7 linked regions of the Homo sapiens genome follow. The protein of the gene in region 4 interacts with the protein of the main gene of each other region in a pairwise test. Each region holds a gene or a part of one and is shown on either strand. Other genes may lie near its edges.

Evidence for each region.
Region 1: the proteins of CEP57L1 (region 4) and FAM161A interact in binary tests that used the Homo sapiens proteins (3 or more experiments, as listed by UniProt).
Region 2: the proteins of CEP57L1 (region 4) and FAM9B interact in binary tests that used the Homo sapiens proteins (3 or more experiments, as listed by UniProt).
Region 3: the proteins of CEP57L1 (region 4) and CEP70 interact in binary tests that used the Homo sapiens proteins (3 or more experiments, as listed by UniProt).
Region 5: the proteins of CEP57L1 (region 4) and ROPN1 interact in binary tests that used the Homo sapiens proteins (3 or more experiments, as listed by UniProt).
Region 6: the proteins of CEP57L1 (region 4) and CEP63 interact in binary tests that used the Homo sapiens proteins (3 or more experiments, as listed by UniProt).
Region 7: the proteins of CEP57L1 (region 4) and CFAP206 interact in binary tests that used the Homo sapiens proteins (3 or more experiments, as listed by UniProt).

Annotation. Positions count from the first base shown.
Region 1 is NC_000002.12:61,847,561-61,851,060, forward strand, and holds part of FAM161A (protein FAM161A), read right to left. Parts: intron 1-3,500. UniProt on the Homo sapiens protein: Involved in ciliogenesis.
Region 2 is NC_000023.11:9,027,628-9,031,127, forward strand, and holds part of FAM9B (protein FAM9B), read right to left. Parts: intron 2,970-3,500; coding exon of another isoform or gene 2,941-2,969; exon of another isoform or gene 2,734-2,940; coding exon 2,634-2,733; intron 1,792-2,633; coding exon 1,680-1,791; intron 340-1,679; coding exon 241-339; intron 1-240. UniProt on the Homo sapiens protein: May play a role in meiosis.
Region 3 is NC_000003.12:138,497,053-138,500,260, forward strand, and holds part of CEP70 (centrosomal protein of 70 kDa), read right to left. Parts: intron 3,173-3,208; coding exon 3,058-3,172; coding exon of another isoform or gene 3,045-3,057; exon of another isoform or gene 2,832-3,044; intron 1,059-2,831; coding exon 979-1,058; coding exon of another isoform or gene 812-978; exon of another isoform or gene 284-811; intron 276-283; coding exon of another isoform or gene 211-275; exon of another isoform or gene 1-210.
Region 4 is NC_000006.12:109,158,007-109,161,506, reverse strand, and holds part of CEP57L1 (centrosomal protein CEP57L1), read right to left. Parts: intron 2,483-3,500; coding exon 2,405-2,482; coding exon of another isoform or gene 2,354-2,404; intron 2,290-2,353; coding exon of another isoform or gene 2,239-2,289; coding exon 2,045-2,238; intron 936-2,044; coding exon 791-935; coding exon of another isoform or gene 777-790; intron 1-776. UniProt on the Homo sapiens protein: Centrosomal protein which may be required for microtubule attachment to centrosomes.
Region 5 is NC_000003.12:123,971,820-123,975,124, reverse strand, and holds part of ROPN1 (ropporin-1A), read left to right. Parts: intron 1-3,305. UniProt on the Homo sapiens protein: Important for male fertility. With ROPN1L, involved in fibrous sheath integrity and sperm motility, plays a role in PKA-dependent signaling processes required for spermatozoa capacitation.
Region 6 is NC_000003.12:134,492,557-134,496,056, forward strand, and holds part of CEP63 (centrosomal protein of 63 kDa), read left to right. Parts: intron 1-2,739; coding exon of another isoform or gene 2,740-2,764; coding exon 2,765-2,808; intron 2,809-3,500. UniProt on the Homo sapiens protein: Required for normal spindle assembly.
Region 7 is NC_000006.12:87,414,472-87,417,971, reverse strand, and holds part of CFAP206 (cilia- and flagella-associated protein 206), read right to left. Parts: intron 2,287-3,500; coding exon 2,098-2,286; intron 1,304-2,097; coding exon 1,145-1,303; intron 1-1,144. UniProt on the Homo sapiens protein: Essential for sperm motility and is involved in the regulation of the beating frequency of motile cilia on the epithelial cells of the respiratory tract. Required for the establishment of radial spokes in sperm flagella.

The sequences.
Region 1 (3,500 bases), on a different chromosome or scaffold from region 4:
AGGAGTTTCAGACCAGCCTGGGTAACACGTCAAGGCCTCATCTCTACAAAAAATACAAAAAATTAGCTTGGTGAGGTAGTATGCACCTATAGTCCCAGCTAGTTGGGGGACTGAGGCGGAAGGATCACCTGAGCCCAGGAGGTTGGGGCTGCAGTGAGCTATGATGGAGGCACTGCACTCCAGCCTGGGTAACAGTGTGACCCTGTCTCAAAAAAACAAAACAAAACAAAAAGAAAGGCAAGGATTTGTCTGCTTTGTTTAATGTTGTGTCCCCAGTGTCTAGAAAAGTACCTGGCTAATGGCAGATGTTCAAGGAATATTTACTGAATGAATGAATGAATGTACAGAAAAAAAAAATTCCACCTTGGGAAGAGGGCAGTTACTCCCTCCCAAAAGAATGAACCATGCAAAGAAATGCTGGCTGCTCTAAAGAGCTATATTCCACCAAGTATTAAGAAAAAGGCCTATGTTCCAAAAACTATAATTAAAACAGGGAGGGTATTTCAAAGAACTGTTTTTAAGCAAAAGAATCTATGCGCTCTCATTCATTCTTTTAGAATATCTCTTAAAAATCATGTCTTATAGCAGTCATTTACACAAGAAGGATCAAATTTATTTGGACCTGGAAGAACCGTTTGAAAACCATATAGAAGAATGAGTAGCTTCTGAAAGATGCGGCAGGTCTGATAAATTATACTTATGTACTGATTTTGCACTGGATCCATTCTGTTTTCAGCTTAATACTGTTAACGCTAGCTGAAACTTTTCAGATAAACTGATCTCACAGTGTTTAACCTAAAACAGATGAATGGCTAGTAAATGACCTCCAATTCTAATTTAATCTTTAATTGTCTCCACTGAGAAAATATTTAGTATACAAAATAACCTAGGCCATAGACATTATTTTTCCAAGAGCCTAAAATAGCATCCTCTCCCTTTAATCGGCTTTTTGTGGAATGTTGTAAATGCAGCCACCAGATTAGAGGATAATCTTCCCTAGATTGGCTTGACCCATTTAGATAATGAATCCTTCCAGTACCTGTTGCTTTATTAGTAATCAGCACCTATGAAGAATTATTTGTGCTGCAGCCTATATAGTTTCATCTGCAACCTGTAATTTTTGAAAAAATTTTTTTCGCTGAATTTGTAAAGAATGAGAGAGATCTACATGTACTAACATGGGTAAACTCCCAATAAATAAGAAAAAAAAGCAAGTTGCAGAACTATCTCCCTCTCTCTGTCTATATATATATTTATATATATATATCTATATATATTTATATATATATTTATATATATATTTATATATATATTTATATATATATTTATATATATTTATATATATATTTATATATTTATATATATTTATATATATATATTTATATATATTTATATATATATTTATATATATATATATTTATATATTTATATATATTTATATATATATTTATATATTTATATATATTTATATATATATTTATATATTTATATATATTTATATATATATAAATATATATATTTATATATATATTTAAATATATATATTTATATATATATTTAAATATTTATATACTTATATATATTTATATATTTATTTATATATTTATATAGTATGTACTGTATATTAAAATATATGGAGGAGATAGAAAAACGGCCAGAGAATAGAATACATATCAATTTTGAAACAGTGGCTACCATTAGGGAGGGAGTAGGTATTCATATTTTCTCTTCTGGGGGAGAGTTGTTAAAAGGGCCTAAGCGTCATATGTAACATTTGATATTTTAAGAGAAGAATGTCACCTGGTATGGTGGCATATACTTCTAACCCGAGCACTATGGGAGGCCGAGGAGGGCGAATTGCTTGAGCCCAGGAGTTTGAGACCACCCTGGGCAACATAGTGAGACCTTTATTTTACAAAATAAAAATAAAAATAAAAAAATTAGGCCAGGATGGTGGCTCAGGCCTGTAATCACAGCACTTTGGGAGGTCAAGGCTGGCGAATCACTTGAGGTCAGGAGTTCAAGATCATCCTGGCCAACATGGTAAAACCCCGTCTCTACTAAAAATACAAAAATTAGCTAGGTGTGGTGGTGTGCACCTGTAGTCCTAGCTACTCAGGAGGCTGAGGCAGGAGAATCACTTGAACCCAGGAGGCACAGGTCTCATTGAGCCGAGATTGTGCCACTGTACTCTAGCCTGGTGACAGAGCGAGACTCCATCACAAAAAAAAAAAAAAAAAGAGAATGAAATCATGTCCTTCACAGCCACGTGGATGGAGCTGTAGGACATAATCTTAAACAAATTAACAGAAAACCAAATATCACATGTTCTCATAAGTGGCAGGTAAAATAATGAGTACACACGAACATAAACATGGAAACCACAGACACTGCGGGCTACCACCAGGTGGGGAGGGAGGGAGGGAGGGAGGGCGGCGTAGGTTGAAAAACTATCTATTGGGTACCATGCTCACTACCTGGATGCAATATACCCATGTAACAAACCTGCACATGCACCTCTGTATCTAAAATAACAGGTGAATTTAAAAATATAGGCCAGGCATGGTAGCTCATGCCTGTAATCCCAGTACTTTGGGAGGCTGAGGCGGGCGGATCACCTGAGGTCAGGAGTTGGAGACCAGCCTGACCAACATGGAGAAACCCCGTCTCTACTAAAAATACAAAATTAGCCGGGCGTGGTGGCACACGCCTGTAATCCCAGCTACTTGGGAGGCTGAGGCAGGAGAATCGCTTGAACCTGGGAGGTGGAGGTTGTGGTGAGCCAAGATCACGCCACTGCACTCCAGCCTGGGCAACAAGAGTAAAACTCCATCTCAAAAAAATATATGTGTGTGTGCGTTCGTGTGTATGTGTGTATATGTGTATGTATGTATGTATATCGACAGTGGAGCCAGGCACAGTGGCTCACGCCTATAATCCCAGCACTTTTGGGAGGCCAAGGCAGGTGGATCACTTGAGCCCAGGAGTTCGAGACCAGCCTGGGGAACATGGTGAAACTCTGTCTCTACAAAAAATATAAAAATTAGCTGGGCGTGGTGGCATGCACCTTTAGTTCCAGCTACTTGGGAGGCTGAGGTGAGGAGATTGATTGATCCTGGGAGGTTGAGACTGCAGTGACCTGTGACTGCACCAGTGCATTCCAGCCTGGACAAGAGAGTGAAACTCTGTCTCAAAAAATAATAAATAAAAAGTGGAGTCAGAAGAAAAACAATAGGTTCTCTCCTATTTATTTTTAATCATTATAGGCTGTTCATTTCTTTCCCAACATTTCCCATCTTATAGTTATGTGTCTGTTCATTTTTTGTTTTTTGAGATGGAGTTTCGCTCTTGTTGTCCAGGCTGGAATACAATGGCGTGATCTCGGCTCACTGCAACCTCCACCTCTCGGGTTCAAGCGATCCTCCTGCCTCAGCCTCCTGAGTAGCTGAGATTACAGGCATGTGCCACCACGCCCGGCTAATTTTGTATTTTTAGTAGAG
Region 2 (3,500 bases), on a different chromosome or scaffold from region 4:
CTAGGTAAAATTTCCAATTTACCTTTTCCTGTTCTAAATAACTCCCACAAACTATTCATGAATCCTAAAAATACATTTACCAATTATATTATATCTGGAACAATACATTCAAAGTGAAAATGCTAAGTAATTTGAAATGTATAATCAAATGTCTTTCCATACATTCAGAAACAAGCAGACTGTCTTCTATTATGCACGTGTTGTATTTTATAATGTATTATGTTACCAAATAGAACAGACCTTTACGAATTGGTCACGTAGCAGCTTCATCTCTTTCAGCCTCTCTCTCCTAACACTTCTATATTGTTGCCACTTCTTCTGTTGTTCTTGAAATATTCTCTAGAATCCCAAAACAAAATAGTGATAAAAATTGGGTAAATTTTAATACTTACAAAACATAATTCTGCATTAGCTTTAAAGGAATACTGTTTAAATCAATACCTCTGAACACTTTCTTTTAGACAACATTTAGGACCAATTTTAAACAATTGTGTTCACCAATAACATGCTAAAATGATGTATTAACCTTTTTTATCAGTCATTAAGTAAAGAATTTTCTTACTTTTACACATTCAACACATATGTCCTAATTCTTGATTTCCAATGAAGAGTATTTGATGAACCTTCCTATAATTTGTTGACCACAGATAGGTAAGATCTATACAGAAATTAACTAAGAAAAATTCTTTCTAAGATTTTAAGCATGTATTAAATCTCGGTCATTTCAATATGCACATAGATGAACCACCCAATAATGATTGCCTTTCTGCACCCTGACCTAATCTCCAACAACAGTGTTCTCCTCTCCTCTACGTGGCACTCACTCACACAGTCATCCCCTAGATTTTGTCATTCCCAATGACTTCAACACCTACGTAATATTAATAATAGCAATGATAAAGAGCAACCATGGGTCAGATCACATCCTGAAAAACTTAAATAAACCTGTTACACAGAAACCCTTTGATCCTCCAAACAACTCTGACGTAGGTACTCTTACCATGTCTCCTTTCGTAGATAAGATAATTTGCCCATGGTTTCCGAGCTAGCAATGGTCAAGCTGAGATAAATAATTTTTCCATGGTTTCCGAGCTAGCAATGGTCAAGCTAGAATCCCAAGCAGTGTGGATGCATAGTCCCAGCCCTTGACCACTGCACTCAGCTGTTTCTCCAACTTCCCAACATACAGCCACTACCTCCCTGCCATCGTAGGTCACTCACTTCAGTACTACAGCTCAGGAGTCTGTTGGGACCTGACACCCACTGAATGGAGCACTTTTTACTGCCCATTGCCCACTCCCGTGTGCTCAGATAACTCAGTCCCAGCTGAAATTCCACAGCCAGTCATCATATCCCCATCTCTGCATCTATTCCCTGCCCAACTCTCCCTCTATCAATCTGCTCGGCTACACCCCGACCCAGGAAATTCCAACCCTACAGCTGTGCTTGCACAAATATGCCAACTGGGCTTACTTTAACTTCTTCATCGTTATGATGCTGACTTCAGTTGGACCCCTAATGCTGCGTGGCAATTATATTCCCCTAGTCCATTAGTCCACTAACGGGCCCCCCTCTCTGGGCTCATGCGCTCTTCCTTCTTTGCTGGATTTCTGCATGAACTATTACTACCTGAGACACTGACATAACAGGTTATACATAAAGCTAAGCATGATACCAACAATTAGTTCTTCCTCTTCTCCCTCTTCTTCTTCTTCCTCTTTCTGCTCGTCTGTGATGTATTCTTCAAGGACATTTAGCAACTTCAGAGAATGTATATAATCACGTTTCTGCCTGTAACACATAATAAGTAACACGGTCATACGTCATAGAGAGATGAAAAATTAATCCTATTCAAACCCAAACTGACTTGACATAATTTATACTATAAAGTAGCAAGGGAGTAATAGCAGCTGAAATCTTCTTTTTGGAAAAAAGTGAAATGAGTTACTCTCATTTTGAAAGGATTCTTTTCTTCCTGACTACTAGAGCAGCTATCTTACATTCTTTACCTGCTGAAGACAAAGGAGGGTTTACTGCACTATAACTTTCCCAGAAACATTTTCTCTAAGAGCAGTTTACTTTCCATTTCCTCTTACTGAATAACATATGGGTTCTCATAAGTAGGTTCAAGAATATCATAGCCATTCATCCCATAAGATTTCCCAAAAGAAAAACTTCACTTAACTATTTCTCCACTTTGGCACACCAATGATTTTGTAAAAGAAATAGTGAAAACAATTTAACTAAAATAGATAACTTATTTACAACATAAGGTTATCCCTTTCTACATAATTGAGTATCGTTAAGGATCTACAGACTAAACATTGAGAACATTTATCTTATATGCAGCTACCATATTTCTAGAAATGGATAAACATTAATTTTACAAGAAGGCTATTTTTATCTGGAAGGCAAAAAGAGGTCATCTTCATTGGCTTCTAGGTAATATCTCTTAATTCTGTTAAACTGAGGTTATAAAACTAAAGAAACTTACCTACTTAGAGAACAATCAAGTAAAATATGTTGTTCACTAGAGACGCCAATATGTACAGGATAGTTTTTGAAATTATTTGCACCAACTAATACAAAGAAATGATATAAATATCATTATGCAAAAAAGCCAACAGTCATACCTTTTAAGTTGCTTTTTTCTCAAAGCATGTTTACTTTTGTTCTTTGTTTTGCTGCAAGTTTTATCCATTTTCATCCTTTTTCTTTTTGCAGTAAGATCCTCTTTAATGTCAGTTAGATAGTAAATGAAAATGGATTAAAAGTTAATGTTGAAAAGTAGTTTCTTTGCATATACTGACATCAATATGGGACTTTATGGTTCAGCAATTTCAGAAGGATATTTAAAATATAAAATGCAAAGATCATTTCAAAAAGCAAGATTTACTCACTTATTTTCTGTAAAACCTTTCAGGTATTAACATTCGCATTTCAATTCCAGTTGGTATAACTGAAAATCACTTAATTGACAGATGATGAAAAAAAGCAAATAATTAAAAGTCTCTATTTTTTAAATGTGCAGAAAGAGTTATAAGCACAGACTTTAATTTCTACATTTATAAAATGTCCTACAATTCAAAGGAGATGCTTCCATGAAATACTGCACAATTCATTACGTAAAGCACACAAAAAAGTATCTTATATAATAGAACCCTCAAAAGGGTAGAAATAACTTAATGCACAATAAGAAAAGCATTTTTAAGCAATCTAGTGATTGATGCTATTAACTGTATTTTAATAAAAGAAGCAATGGCCATGAGTATAAAAATTTAGGTTTAGGTAAAGAAATACATTCAAAAACACTTTTGAAATGTTTTCTTGGAGCTTTTTATGACATTTGTACCCATAGTGCTGTGTTTCAGAAAACTGTAATACTGCAAGGAATGCTTTCCTAAACATGATTTCACATCAGAGCTCTACCATCAATTGCTAAGAATAATTTTCAGCAATCATAAAAGATTTGTACCACAATGCAAATATTTTTTACATAC
Region 3 (3,208 bases), on a different chromosome or scaffold from region 4:
AGTTTCATACCTCATCTCAAGTTTAACTTTCAAATTACATTTTCACTTGCTGTGATCTTTTTAAACATGAGGACAAGCCTAAAGCAAGCTCACTCATTGTCTCCCTTGCTTCCCCACTGCACATAAGACTGGTCACAAAACTTCCTTTATGTTCAGTAGGCTATATATTCTAATTAGATACTTCTTTCACTTATTCTTCTTATCAAGTTTTCATTGACTCATTCCCTTATTTTCATACCAAGCTTCATCTCCTCTTCTAAAAGCAAAGAGCCATTCTTTAAAAAAAAAAAAAAATCTTTCAAATGAGCTATACAGAAAAAATTCACTGGTGAATACATCACTTTAAAACTTTAAAAATCATTCTTAATAGTAAGATAAATAATTTTATAGCCATATGTAATTATATTTAAACTAGATAAGGTCTCTATTTTGCCTTATGAGTCCTAAGCAAATTTTTTCCTTTTAGGAGACACTACTACTAATGAAGCCCTCAATCTGACCCTCAGTATAAGTGTAATATTTCATCTTTTCCTTTCCACAGATATTTATGACTTTATGTTACTTCATATAACCAGAGAGGAAATATTATTTGTATATTTAAAAAATTTTGTAGATAGGTGGTATCTTAAGAAAAAAAAAGGAGGGAGGAAGGACCTTCTAAGATCATAAATCCTAAGAATATTTCTCATTAGACAATGACAGAGCCAGGGTTAAACTAGGCATGGACAGAATGATGCCATCTCTCATGATAAGGTCCTCCAACAAAGGTAGTTCCTATTGCTGTTAAGGGTCTGTGTTTCTGTTCTATGGACTAATCCAAACAAACTCTAACTGCTTGTAAGGAATGTGTTTCCAGAACTGTTAGTGGTTTCCAACCACTAGGTAAAAATACTAATCCAGTGACCAAGGAACACCCTTTTCTTAAATGCACTGACATTTTAAGACTCAAAATTTCACCATCACCACCAGAGATCTTACCTAAGATTTCAAGTAGATCATTAGTAAATGCCTGAAATGCTGGGAAAAATTCCTCGTGTTCTTCCAATTTGTAGATAATGCTGTTTAAAAAATGCACAATTTAAACCTGATTTCTAACTTTGGGTTCTTGCATCTGATTGCAAACAGAACATTTTCAAAATAGAAACTATATTGCTAATTTAAATATAAACTTAATGATCATTTACTACAGTCTTTTCTTTCTGAGCTTTTTGTTAATCCAATATCACTTTTCTTAAAAAAGCATTTCAATATCAATGTAAAATTTGTTAAATTCATATATAACATTCTTTTTTTTTTTTTTTTTGAGACAGAGTCTTGCTCTGTCACCCAGACTGGAGTGCAGTGGCGCTGTCTCGGCTCACTGCAAGCTCCGCCTCCCGGGTTCACGCCATTCTCCTGCCTCAGCCTCTCGAGTAGCCTCCTGTAGTGCCTGCCACTACGCCCGACTAATTTTTTGTATTTTTAGTAGAGACGGGGTTTCACCGTGTTAGCCAGGATGGTCTCAATCTCCTGACCTCGTGATCCGCCCACCTCGGCCTCCCAAAGTGCTGGGATTACAGGCGTGAGCTACCACGCCCAGCCAATATACAACATTCTTAACATGGCAAATTTCCCATTAAGCTCAAGGCTTCTTAGATCATGCTTTTACAGCATTTTCTAAAAATAATTGGCTTTTACACCCAGTATCCTATTAAACATTAAGAAAAAATATCAGGCTGGGCACAGTGGCTCATGCCTGTAATCCCAGCACTTTGGAGGCCAAGGCAGGAGGATCACTTGAGGTCAGGAGTTCGAGACTAGCCTGGCCAACATGGTGAAACCCCACGTCTACTAAAGTACAAAAATTAGCTGGGTGTGGTAGCGCATGCCTGTAACCCCAGCCACTCAGGAGGCTGAGGCATGAGAATTGCTTGAACCTGGGAGGCGGAGGTTGCAGTGAGCTGAGACTGAGCCACTGCACTCCAGCCTGGGCAACAGAGTGAGACTCTGTCTCAAAAAAAAAAGAAAAGAAAAAAAGAAAAAAAATCAGTAGTCAGTAAAACTGTGGGAAGGAAGAAATAGGCCAATAGCAAGATATATGTTCCTTTTAAAAGCACCAAGTGTCAGATTATGTAAGGGTTCTTCTAGGAAAACTTGCAAAACATATGGTTTATGTGGTATATATTGTGTGTTTCCCTTCACATATGCTGTAATATAAAATTGGGGGTCAGGTGTGGGGAAAGTTGCTTTAACTATAGCTACAATGTCTTGATATTTTCTAAAAATACCAGCTTTTATGTTATAGATGCCTAGTCTTTTAAAAACTCCTCAACATTTATCTTCTAATCAAATAAATATACTATTAATGATTATTCAGTGGTCTATGGTAGTGTCCTAAAAATAGAACTTATTGATATAATCAGAACTTACATGATGTTGCTAACAAGGTTTGAATTTCTCCATATATAATATTTCCTGAAAACAGGCTTATGCTGAAGAGTACCTGACCTTCTTTATAGGCCTTACAATCTATTTTTATCTTGAAAATATTTGGCATTTCCTCCATCCCTAAGGGTTTGAGATTATCTTAGATTGTCAAGTTACTTAAAAGATGCTATTCCAAGGCTGGGCATGGTAGCTCACACCTGTAATCCCAGCACTTTGGGAGGCCAAGGCAGGCGGATCACTTGAGCCCAGGAATTTGAGACTGGTCTGGGCAACATGGTGCAACCTTGTCTCTATCTCTCTCTCTACACACACACACACACACACACAAATTAGCTGGGCGTGGTGGCGTGTGCTTACAGTCACACACACACACAAAAGATGCTATTCCAAACAGGGAAGGTAAATAAGTTTTGAAAGTCTTTAATTTCACCCCTCCAGGAACTCTCGATAATACTTATTTTAATTTTTATTGTTTAGAGACAGGGTCTCACTGCCTTGCTCAGACTGGACTTAAACTCCTGGGTTCAAGTGATCCTCCCACATCAGCCTCCCAAGTAGCTGGGACTACAGGCGTGTGCCACCACACCCAGCCATTCTGGATGATACTTTGTAAACTTTTAAAACAAATACCTCTGGAGGTCTTCAGGTCCTAATACCTGCATAACCTGCTCATTCACATCTTCATTAATCAGCCTACAGAGTTTTCCAACAGTGCTTACTAGCACACACAATGAGGATGAACTATCTGCAAAAGAGAAATAAAAGGATATTTTAACAGAGA
Region 4 (3,500 bases):
GGGAGGCTTATTTGTGACATTCATATATCACTAACTTATATGAATGATGATTTTGTCCATAGCCAGATGGCTACATGATGTGACTTGAGGGTTCCTGGGAAAGGCTCCCTCTGCTTTCTGCTCCAGCAGTGTAATAGTGCTGCAAGTTCAACCTACGGAGTCATTGTCTTGGAATTAAATATTACATTCCATGATTTTTCTGTTAAAATAAGAAAACTGTTAGCTATTCTTAGTTATTACATCTTAACATACAAGTGCAGAGTTTTCTTCACCATCCCTGTTCTACTCACTATAGCTAGCTGAGTATAGGACCCCAGGGAATGGAACATAAAACAGCTTGTTTTGGGAAAGGGGAAATCATGCTTTAAGGATTGGGGCACTGCTTGGGAGCCAGGTTTATGTCTGGCAGTGAATGAGAGACCTGCTGACATAAGGGGTATCATTAAGGCATTAGAGGAGAGAAGGAAAACGAAAAAGAATGCTAAAAGGGTAACTGGAGGGCTGCTAAGGCAAGTTTAGTCTGCCTCACAATTTCCCCAAAGCAATTTCTGAATACATAACTGAACTTATTTGCTCACTTAAAAAATTTTAACTTGGAGAGTTATGTAGGAGGTCCATGTTATTCCAATGGGACAGATGGCTCTATTCTGTCATAGGCCTAAGGGATTACCATCCATCTTTTCACTAAATCCCATATACAGACCTCAAATTTGGAAAGTCATACAGAGATACAACACTGAATCCAGATATTTTGTGTTTTTATTAAAATCTCTTACTAAAGCCTTCTTACACTGTCTTGATGCTTCTTCAGTTTGGAGATTTGTTCTCCTTTAATTTCCATTTTCTTGAGTAAACACTCTAGTTCACATTCTATGTCGTCACAGACTGAATGACTTTCAGTTTCCTTCATTTGTTTCAGTAGTTCTTGGTGCTCCCTATGAAAGAATAGCAAATATTAAGCAGTATTATAGTTTATTGCATATATTTCTTTGCCATAATTAAGCAATTTTCTGTTCAATCATAAATTTTAGTCAGAGTTAAATATTAACCTTTAAAAACAGCCTCTTTCTTTAGGGTTAATTAAGTCTATGGTAAATATAACCAGGCTCCTGTGATTTGAAATTAAATACCTTTAGAAATATCTTAAGACGGCTAAGCAACTTTTAAAAACATCTGAATTCCTGATGCTCATAGCTGAATGTAGTAAAATGTATGATGTCTTTAACAGAGGTATTAAAGGGCTTTCTTCCTCGTTATTGATATAGGATCTTTGGAAGAATTCCAGTTGTAGAAGTATCTGCCTGAAAAATTTCTGGATTTGGAGTTAGCCTACTGAAATACTGTTAATAGAAAGAGTTATATCTTCTACAGAAGTCTTAGATCAACTAGCTGGTCAGCCAAATCACATAGTTCTGGAATTTCTGTTGAATATATATTTAAGCAGGTGGGCACAATATAATGTATCCCATATGGAAATCTTCTTTACTATAGATGCTTCAAAATTTGTAATGCAGACCAGCCAGAGTCTAAAACAAGGAATTACATTCCTACTTGTCTAATGAAATAATTCATTCAGCTAAAAGATTCTAAAACACAAAAGGAGAGCCTGTCTTATAAAAGCTTTTGTGAGTTTTAATCTAAGGTCATCAGATCCTGTATGTTAGAATGATAATAATATCTATCAGTCCAGATTTTGGGAATACAGAAATACCTAAGAATGAAAAAGTAGTAGCTATAAAGAATTGAAATTTTAAATAGTAATAAATACAATGAAAAATAGGGACAACAAACTGTCCAAATGGCTAAGTAACGCCTTTAAGAATTTATAAGTGGTATTGTTCTTAAGACTAAGAAGAAAAAGTGATATGGTACTTCTCCTGATAAAGAATAAAAATACTGGCCAGGCACGGTGGCTCATGCTTGTAATCCTAGCACTTTGGGAGGCCGAGGCAGGAGGATTGCCTGAAACCAGGAGTTCAAGACTAGCCTGGGCAACATAGCGAGACACTGTCTCTTGAAAAAAAAAAAGAATATAAATACTTACATGCTCATTTGGTCCAGCTCATCTTGCATTGCCATCAAAAGTTCAGATAAATTGTCACAAATGGAAATGGACTTTTCTGAGTCAGGAGGAATAGCTTTACACCAGGAAGTTGTTCTAGAAGGCTTGGGGAGACATCTAGTCTCAGTCACGTTAAAAGGTTTCTGAAGGATATGTGGGTCACGATGTTGCCTCATCTGCAAAAAGTTTTGCATACTTGCATTCACAGAACAGCTTGCACTGGTAGACTTATGGGAAAAGAAACAACTGAGAATAATTTTAAATGACTGAAGATATTTAAATAGCACTTACAACAAAACAGGAGTTTTTTTGAACGACTATCTTCATTTTATCCCCTCTCACCTTTTCAGCCACAAAAGGCAGTGCTCCAAACTTTGAACAAATTTGCCAAGGTGGTCGTCTCTTTATACATTTAGTTTTCTAGAGATTGGCAAGAAAAAAACGTAAACAAGAAATTATTTTAAAAGTTATTTACGATATGAAGAACTCTCAAAACTCAACAGAAAACAATGCAACTGGAAAATGGGCAAAAGACATGGACAGAAATTTCACTGACATAGACATACGTATGACAAACATACGAAAAGATATTCAACATCATTAATTATGGAAATGCGAGTTAAAATTACAGTGAAATATCACTGCACATCTATCAGAATGGCCAAAATAAAAAACAGTGACAATAACAAATGTTGGCAAGCACACAGAGAAAATAAAATCACTCACATATTGTTGGTGGGAATACAAAATGGTACAGCCATTTTGGAAGACAGTTTGGCAGTTTCTTATAAAACTAAAAATGTACTTATCACATGACCCAACAATTGTTCTCTTACGCATTTATCCTAGAAAAATGAAAACTTATGTTCACATAAAAACCTGTACACAAATGTTCATAGCAGCTTTATTTGTAATAGCTAAAAACCTGGAAACAATCGAAATATCCTTTTTTTTTTGAGATAGGGTCTCATTCTGTCACCCAGACTGGGGTGCAGTGGTATGATCTTGGCTCACCGCAACCTCCGTCTCCCAGGCTCAAGCGATTCTCCTGCTTTTGTCTCCCGAGTAGCTGGGATTACAGGTGTGTGCCACTACTGCCTGGCTAATTTTTGTATTTTTAGTACAGATGGGGTTTCACCATATTGGCCAGGCTGGTCTTGAACTCCTGACCTCAAATGATCCACTCGCCTTGGCCTCCCAAACTGTTGGGATTACAGGTGTGAGCCACCGCGCCCGGCTCCAGATATCCTTTAACAGATGAATGGTTAAATTGTGGTACATCCATAATGCGGAATACCACACAGAAATAAAAAGGATGTACTGATACATACGACAACTTGGACGGACCTCAAGGGAAAAAAGCCAACCACAAAAAGTTACATACTGCATAATTCCATTTATATAACATTCTTGAAATAATAAAATACACAGATGGTGA
Region 5 (3,305 bases), on a different chromosome or scaffold from region 4:
TTATGAATATTGCCCTCAGATTTATTTTCACTCCGCTCCTTCCATTCATATTCCCAGAGACAACCAAGAGCCGACTGTAGAAAAAGACTTCCAGACACCTAGAATATATATCAATAGACACTGTTTAAAAGGGGTACAATCTTATCGAAAACTATGTAATAAACAGAATTGGATGCAGAACTCAGACATAAGAAAGCAAAAAAAAAGAGAGATGAGGCTATTTCTGAATTTAGTCATGACATCTCCATGGATGCAGGATGTTCATACAGATTTATGCCTTTTCCAAATTTGACTTGTTTGATATTGGAAATGCAATTTTACTGTTTTGAAGCCAAAGATGCTGAAATCAGCTTATATGTATAGATATTTAAAGCTTGGGTATCTTATATGTGGACTTACATTGCTAAACATTGTTAAAATAACTTAAAATGAATCAAAAACGTGTTTTTTTAAAAGAATCCCTGAGATACATACAAGTTTGAAAATTATTGAGAAAATAATTGCCTCTGCCAAAACCAAATGGTATGAAAAGGTAGTCTGAATCATTCAGCATATCTAAACATAATCTTGTTCTTCTCAAATATGCTTGGAATACATATTTGACAGGTTTGTTTCTGAGAAAATTTAGTGGAAATATTGTAGTCCAAATTTCCTATAGATTCCCCTACAGCCTTCATCATAATCATTTCTTTAGAGAGAAGTAAACAAGAGGACATTTGTGGCACTTTCTTCATTGTCCTTTATAGCATTTATTACTGAATAAATCACTATCCTCTGAGGAGGAAAGGAAAGTAAGCAGCAGAGGCCTATGAGTTGTCAGTCAGGACTGGGGAAAATCACAAACAGGAAGATAAAAAATGAACATATTTTATTAAATTCTCATAGGGTTACAGATTTTTTTCACACCACATTTGGAGACGTTTTTGGGGGAAAATATACCTTTAAAATTTTATCTGTAGTTAATTTGGATCTTCTTGGTCTACCCCACCCACAAAGGGTCAAATAAGAAAATAAATAAATTCAATCCAATCCTGAAATTTTAGTCTGATGCAGTAACTGAAACAGCCTAAAGGTAAATTTCCCAGTATCTCAGGTTTTTCCTCACCACGCTCTCTTCTCCAAGATGGCAGTTGAATGTAGGCAGAAAGAGCTGACTCTAGGACCACAGAGCAGTCAAGTGAAGGGTTTCTCACATCCCTTAGTCTTCCCTGGCATCTCTGGTCTCCATGGTAATGCCTGTCTGTCTGGTCGCTAGCTGCTTGCAGCTTAAGTTTTTGGTCTCGTCTCTCCCGGACTGGTGAAAGGCTGATGATGCCTCCCCAACTGGCTCATTTCAGTTCTCAATGGTGTCGAGGGCCTCCTTGATTCTCTGCCAGGCTGTCCTATCTGCTCCCTGGCTCTGGTGGTCTACTTCACAGACCCTCACCAGTGTGTGGTGTGTCTGAGTTCTTCCCTTATCCCCATACCTCACAGTAACAAAGAGTGACTTTGGAAAGTCAGATTCCAACCCTCCCTCTGCTTAGCCCACGGTGTAGATGCTAGGTTTCCTCTGATGTACCTGCCTCCCAAACTGGAGAGGGGAAACCATGAGGTGAATTGAATCTTTCTACTTCCCTTCTAAAATAAGGAGGTGGGATTCAATATTCCATGAGGTTCATCTACCTCTGACATCCTGTGATTCTATCCCCACTTCTCTGCTTCCTCTGAGACACCCTCAGGCCCACCTCTGAATAACAGTGAGCTCCTCCAATTCTAAGAGGCCTTGACATATCTGACTTTGCTCCTCATCATCCCCATGTCAAAGAACCCCTAGAGATAAAGTCAGCCTGGAGGTTAAATCTGCAAATAAAGGGTGTCCTATGAAACCAGTAATCAATACCCTTATATTCATTTCTATCATGCTGGAGCTGGACTGTTTCTGGGATCTTAAATGTGGGGTTGGCCAGTGGTACGGTGTGAATGTTTGTGTTCTCCCAAAATTCATATATTGAAATCTCAACTTCCAAGGTGATGGCCTTAAAAGTAGGGCCTCTGGGAGTTGATTGGGTCATGAGGGTGGAGCCCTCATGAATGGGATTAGTGCCCTTATAAAAGTTGCCCCTCCACCAAGTGAGGACACATAGAAGGCATCATTCATGAGGAACAGGCCCTCACCAGAGAGCAAATCTGCTGGCCTCTTGGTCTTGGACTTCCCAGACTCCAAAACTGTGAGCAATACATTTCTGTTGTTTATAAATTACCCAGTCTAAGGTATTTTATTATAGCTGAGACTAAGTCAGGGGTCACCATCTGGTGGAGACCTTGCATCCTAGTTAATTCATATATCCTTAGAGGCAAGCCCAGAATTTCTCTTTCCTTTGCCAATTCAATAGCAAGACAAGATCTCTATGCCATTCAGAAAAGCCAGTTTGTTCCTTGTAGAAGATCTAGTAACAGGAATTTTTACTCTGGTAGGTAATAGGTACATTTACTCCATCTTGAGCTCTCTGCGTCTAATACACATTATTCAGAATGCGATGGCATGCAGACCTGTATTCCTCCTCCCTTCAGCACTCCTTCCTCTGGACTGGCCTATGCCACCTCCTGTTCCACTGAACTGATTATTAAAAAAGGAAGAGATCACGTATGTAGAAAATAATCATGTTCACTGGAAGGAATGACATATTTGTTAGCAAACGATTTACATTTCAAGGCTTTCACCTCTAACTTTGAAAATGAAGCTCGCAAGATGCTTAAAGATTATGTCTGTGAAGCGGATCCCAAAAAAATATTGTGCAAGAGAATGAAGATCTGTTTACTTTAGGTTTATGTCAGTTTACCAAATAGCTCCAGTCCAAAGAGTTATTTATACACTCATCCATTTATTAAATCTTTAAAAATACTTAAAAATCTTATGAGGCAGTAGAATTTGAAGGTTTGTAGTTTGAATAATCAATAAAAGATGATGTTTAGGGTTGAAAGCCGCTATGTTAGTTTGTTGCCATGACTTGGTGGCTTGAACAACAGAAATTTGTTGTCTCTCAGTTCTGGAGGACAGTTCTGGGAACAAGCTGTCAGCAGGATTGCTTTCTTCTGAGGCATTTCTCCTTGGCTTAAAAATGGCCAGCTTCTCAAACTGTGTTCCTCTGTGCCTACATGTCTGGTGGCTCTCTCTTTATATCCTAACTCCTCTTCTTATAAAGACACCCTACTAACTTCATTTTAACTTATCTTTTTAACGGTCGTATGTTCAAATACAATCACATTCTCCAGTTCTGGGGTTAAGGCTTTGGCATGAACTTTAGGGGGAACAATTCAGCCCATAC
Region 6 (3,500 bases), on a different chromosome or scaffold from region 4:
TGGTCCACTTCCCTCCTTTTTTTTTTTTTTTTTAAACAGGAATCTCTATCTTAGACCATTTTGATTTCTAAAATAGCAATATTTCTTATGTGACTATTTCATTATTGTGCTGCTGCCACCTGGTGGCCACAGTAGTGATGTCATACTTCAGTTTAATTTCTTTTTTTATTGCAAAGACACTATTAAGCCAAAAGATAGGCTGATATATTTTAAGATATAGAATACTGTAAAATATATAAAGGTTGCACATCGATTGTGACTCAATTGATTGCCACAATGTCTAGGTTGAATCCAGGACTATAATTTTTAGTTTATCATAGTCAAGTTATTTAACTCTCTAAGCCTGTTTTCTCAAAGTAATAGTATCTGTCTTTTATGAGTATAGTGAAGATTGATTTAGACAATGTGTACAAGGCAGCTGTTGAACATTCAGTAACTTAACTTCTAAGTATATTATTAAATAGTCATAGAAAATATATTAATGTATATTACTAAATATATTAATGTTTAAGAATAACATGACCTAAATAAGTATAATTTTACTAATGATAATTTTGAATAACTGTGATAGCACTGTCAATAAGAATAGCACTTTCCTACATGTTAGTTAAGTATCCGTGTATGGTTGTCAGGAGCATGCTACTTACAGTGGACATTTAATTGGCTGTTAGAACCCATGAAAAAGCTGGAAGAAACCTTAGAGAATATTGTTCATGCCCCTCATTTTGCAGATGTTAAAACAAGTCCGAGAATATAAAGCTAGTTAGTTGCAGAGTAGGACTGTATCCTGGGTCTCCATCTAGTGTGGTGTGGACCGTGTACTGCCTCCCAGTTCTCCTAGAGTGGACCAAAACATGGAATCTTGGTTGCATTGTAGTTGGACTGTATTGTGATTTGAAAGTGGAGTAAAACATGGGAACCTTTTTCTTTAGGTTTTTATTTTTGCAATTTTGGTGTAATATGTAGGATAAACCAACTAGAAAAAAAATCCTCCCTGTCACGTTTGTGCACAAATAATTTAATACTCAGTTTGTTAGTATCTTTAAAAATAGATGCAAATAAGGTGCAGTGGTTCTATTTTCCAGTCTTCTCATTCTCCTCTGTGTCTCTGGAACACCCTGGGCATGTCTCTCACTATATTTATCACACTGGGAAAGCCTTTTTGGCTCATTTTTTTCTGTCCCATACTAGACTATTAATACCTTGAAAGGGGCCATATCTTTCATCACTATATATCTAGTTGTTAGTACAACATTGAATTACGTGTTGAGTAAAATAATCTACTTCTTACAGCAGTATAATTTTTAGATGAGGATTAGCCCAGGGGCAGAACCTCTACACCACAGTCTGGTTATTGTCTTAAGGGTTTAAGGAAAAAGCATTTTGGAATGAAAAGTGGTTTGACATTGAACATTTTGAAGATTTATTATAAAAGGCGAGAAGCATACACATATTAATCAACACTACTGAGTTTAAGGGTCCTCTTTCCTTTCTCACTGTCACCTTTCTTCATGGTGTATCTTACCCTTTATTTTATATTTATTTATTTATTTATTTATTTATTTATTTATTTATTTGAGATGGAATCTCTGTCTGCCACCCAGGCTGTAGTGCAATGGTGTGATCTCGGATCACTGCAACCTCCGCCTCCCGACTTCAAGCGATTTTCCTACCTCAGCCTCCCCATGGCTGGAACTACAGGTGCATGCCACCATGCCCAGCTAATTTTTTTTTTTTTTGGTAGAGGCGGAGTTTTACCATGTTGGCCAGGCTGGTCTCAAACTCCTGACCTCAGGTGATCCGCCTCCCTCGGCCTCCCAAGTTCTAGGATTACAGGCGTGAGCCACCGCACCCAACTGTATCTTGCTGTTTATATGGCAGTCTTCTATCTCCCGTTCCCTCTTTCTCTGCTAGACCCTTCATGTAGTTCCCCAGCTGTGACCAGTTTGCATGGGGGAGAGGGTAGGTAAAAGAGGGAGGGGAGTTAAGTTCAGCCAAAATAATCTGCCACGTGCCATGTTGAAATGCTGCGTTGAGCTCTGCAGCTGCAGAGATGAATAAAATTGGGTTTCTGCCCTGGAGGGATGAATAGTCTAGTAAGGAAAAATAGTATGTAAAAAACTCACTTCCAGTGTGGTGCAACTCCTATGAAAGAACGTATTAAGCACTGGGAGCAAATGAAGTGCAGAGGTGGGAGGGCCCTGTGGCTGCCTTTCGGTGGAGAGAGGATGTTGCATGCAGGAAGCTCTATGAGCCTGTCTTCAGGAGTGAGTAGGCTTTCCCATGATAGACCAAAGAGTTTAATCTCAGTACACTTCGCATTTTTTATACTATCTCTTTAATTTTTAAAAAGCTATACTTTCCCTCTGACATGTGTGAACCCATTTCTTTCTCATTTTGTTAAGGGAGTTTGTGTATCCGTCTGCTAGAGAGATCCCACCTCCACCCCTGCTCACCCGACATTAGGAATTAGGCAAAGAACAATGAGATATTTGATATTTACACGGAGAGAGTGTCAACCGCAATTCAGATATTTTTAAGTTATTCTGTTTTAGTCCGAAATAGTTTGTTCCTAGTATTCCTGAAGTGATGTTCTTTGACTGCTTCTACAGTCATCTTAAGAAGTGCTGCATTTTTTCATTATTATGTATGCTTTCATTCACATTCTTAAGTTGTAAGTTAGAATGTTAGAACTGAAGAAATGAATTGTCTCATGACTGATATTTTTTTCTTTGTCAGTTGCCAAAACAAAGGGGATTTGGTGATGGAGGCTTTGTTAGAAGGAATACAAAATCGAGGGCATGGTGGGTAAGTTTGCTTTTTTTAAAATTAATTTTTTTGGTTAATACATGATTACATATTTATAGGGTTCACATGATACTTTGATACATACATATAATGTGTAATGATCAAATAAGGGTATTTAGTATACCTATCAGCTCAAGCATTTATCATTTTTTGTGTTGGGAACATTTCAATTCTTCTAGCTACTTTGAAATATATAGTAAATTTTTAAAGTTTAAGGAACCTTACTGTGCTAGTCACCCGACTGTGCTAATTACTTAACTAGTTACATACTAGTTACTTAGTAGTCACCTTACTGTGCTATTTAACACTAGAGCTTACTCTTCTACCTAACTGTATGGTTTGTACCCATTAACCAAACATTCTTCACCCCCAACCCCTTCCCAGCCTCTGGTAACCATCGTTCTACTCTCTACCTCCATGAGGTGAACTTTTTTAGACCCCACATATGAATGAGAACATGAGATATTTGTCTTTCTGTGCCTATTATTTCACTTAACGACCACCAGTTTTATCCATGTTGCTGCAAATAACAGGGCTTCATTCTTTTTTATGGCTGAATAGTATTCCATGATGGATATATTTCTGACATTTTCTTTATCCATTAATCTGCTGTTGGACACTCAAGTCAATTCCATATCTTGGTTATTGTGAATAATGCTGCAATAAACATGGGGGTACAAGTATCCCTTTCA
Region 7 (3,500 bases), about 22 Mb from region 4:
GGTCAAGAGATTGAGACCATCCTGGCCAACATGGTGAAACCCCGTCTCTACTAAAAACACAAAAATTAGCTGAGCGTGGTGGCGCATGCCTGTAATCCCAGCACAGGAGAATCACTTGAACCCGGGAGGCGGAGGTTGCAGTAAGCCGAGATCGCGCCACTGCACTCCAATCTGGGCGACAAGAACGAAACTCCATCTCAAAAAAAAAAAAAAAAAGAATCTAAAACAAGTTCAAACAAAAGATATTAACAGAATGATAACCCAGTTACAGTAGGTCAGCTTTTGCCACTAAATATAGAAGAGTTCAGAGAATAGGCAGAGTTTGGTATTATGTGTTGTTAACCATGTGCTTCCAGAAAAGCCACTGACCCTTCCTTTTGTATATCTTCTTTTCTAGTTATTAAAAAAAAAAAAAAAAGGAACGTTTGTTAAGAAACTCATCTGGATGGTGAAAAATGACAGAATAGTCTAGCAAGGGAGGGTCATTTATGAAAATGGAAATTTGACTTTTTAGAACAGTTTTTAAAATAGAAAAAATTACCCTTTTATACTAGATTAGTGATTTGGTGAAAGACACTAACACCTTATCAGTGGGCCTACAGGAGTACCAAATTTCATAAGGAAGTTACTTCTACTGGTAGGTACTTCATTAAATATTTCATAAGTACTTTCAAACTTATAAAGAATGCATTAAGTATATAACCACAAAGTAAATGCCCCCGAATTTAGAGATTTGAAATATCTCCTCGTGGATCTTTTCATTCCATTAACTGCACCAGGAACTGTTTTCAGGAAGATTTTTATTTTTTAAATAACTAAATTGTACTCCCTTTTGGTTACGGACTTGCAGTAATGAACACAAAGCCCTGCTGAACTGGGAGGTTAGCTTTGAGCAGGACCCTTCATTGCTTTCACTGATTCACTTTCTCCTACTAGCTTCATGGTACATAAAATGTAAAGTCTTGCCCCAGCAAAAGTAAAAATCACTACACATTATAAACAGTAGTTATTCTTAAGGAAACAGTAAAAAATGCAAATCTTAAATTTAAGAATGCCAGTGGTGTGTTGTTTATTATTTTCCTCACTGTGCAAGTTAAATTTTAAACATACATAACCTTTAGAATTAATCTAATGATATACCTACAATCATCAATGCCTTCTCCTCCTTTTCCACAGTCTCTGTTAAATAAACGAATTCCAGTAACAATCATGGTGAGTTCTTTCAGCTGGCGTTCTTTGTCCTTCTTAGAAAGAGTTAGAAATGTCCCAAGCTCTGCCTGAGGAAAAACACTCTGTAGAGCAGCTAAAATAAACCAGAAAAAAAAAAAAGGAAAACAAAATGATAGAATAAAGATATCAGACGTTAAATAACGTTTTTCTTTAGCAGCAAGTTAAGGGTCTGAGTTACTTATATGATTCTTTAAATTACTGATACCTGATTATAGGATACATAATAAAACTTATCACGCATCAAAGCTGGATTACTGAGAGTTATGCCATTGCCTCATGTCCATTTTTAATAATTAAGCATCCAGCAGTAACTTTTTGGCAATGGGCATGAAAACAAGCTTTCTAATTAGGGATCTGAGCCAAAAAATGGATGCTTTAAAATAATTATGGAAGAAAGCCATAGGAGAGCTAGACATTTTTCCTATTCCTCATTTTAAAGGATGAAAGAGGGCAAAGACTTCCTAAGGATAAAATGGTGCCCCATTCCATCACCCATTTTAAATGACAGACTCAATTTCTTTCATCAATATGAAATATCCGTTTTCAGCTTTTCCATTTACTCAATCAGCCTGGTACCCTCAATCCTACTATCAATGTTTCTCTAATGGGGTGTAATAGGTGCCTAGATATGTACAGCTCTAGGAAAATTAGCAATATTTCACTTTCTAGAGGTGCTACTTGAGTTTTAGAATGGATACACAGTGTAAAAGGAGACTGGGTACATTTTAACTCATTTGTGCTGATTTTTTTTTTTTTTTCAGATAAAAAGGGAACTTCAATCTTTAACACTTCTAATTTAACATGTTTTATAAAATACAATGACCATATATTTTCACTTATGAAATGGAAATTGGTTATACTTTTTACCTGTTACCTCTCTGACAGTCTTGATGTCTGTAGGGGATCCAAGGCCAGAGCGGAGTAACACATAGCTGATAATCTTCCGGTAGAGGCTTTCCAATTCTTCTTTAGCACATGCTCTGTTATCTGTAATTTCTCGGGTAACAGAGCCTAATCTAGACTCTAGGACCCGGTGATGTTCTTCGAGAAATTCCACTAAAATTGCCAAATAACAATGTTCTATATATTTAATTTTTAGAATTCTTCTTACGTAAGAACTAGAGAAAAACTGGATTGGATATGGCAATTCTACTTCAGGAAAACAAGTAATTTCTTAAGCTGTAATAATGAAATAAAAAACAGTGGCCAGCATGTAGCCTCAAGACAAAAATCCAGGAGGGAAGATTTATTACAGTGACTTAAATGGAATACTTTGTCAAAACACCTAAGACTTTAAACAGCCAAACTAAACAGGAGATATCAGAAAAGGCTAAAACCTCCCAATTAAGCAGAAAATAAAGAAGACCATTTCTACAAAATATATATTATATATTTTAATTTTAATACTATATGAAAAAATAAATATATACATATTATATATTTATGCTATATGTAAGCACATGTAGTATACTATACATAAGCATATATAGTAGCAGAAATATATATGTAGTATATATGTTCCTTTCGGTTACGTGTATTTTTATTTCAGTTCTAGATAAATTTCCTCTGAAAAGCATTATTGATAATACGATGTTGCATCGAGAACTGTATCCCTCCTCATTCCTCCTGTGATATGCTGAGGGACAGGCTTCACTTTGGCAGGACACTATGTTCCCTGAGTTGTTGCAAGTACAATTCTGCAATGACTCTATAAGACAACCCATATTACTATTACAAGGTCAATAATTAACATATCCACCACGCACAGTTTATACCTATACCCTTGCCACAAAACCAACTGAGAACTTTTTGCAAATTAAAAATATGTTTAAATAACAAATTTAAAAATCTATAGGTTAAATTTTATCAATTATATGACTATTTCTTGCTTTAAAATTTCACTATTAAGCAAAAACGCAAGATATATACTTTTACATAGGTAGCATAACTGAAACTAACAAAGAGAAACATCACCAAATTGTTAATAATGATTGTACTATACAGTAGAGGTAGAGGTAGTCCATAGAGAAATAGACTTGTTTTATATAGCAGGTGCAGAGGCAGTCCATAGAGAATTACATTTTCCTTTTTCTTTTGTTTCCAACTTGTCTTTGATGTATGCATTAAATTATTTACATAATGAGCCAGGCATGGTGGCTCACACTGATAATCCCAGCACTTTGGGAGTCTAAGGCGTAGACAGATCGCTTGAGGCCTGGATTTCGACACCAGCCTGGGCAACATGGTGAAATCCCGTCTCTACTAAGAAT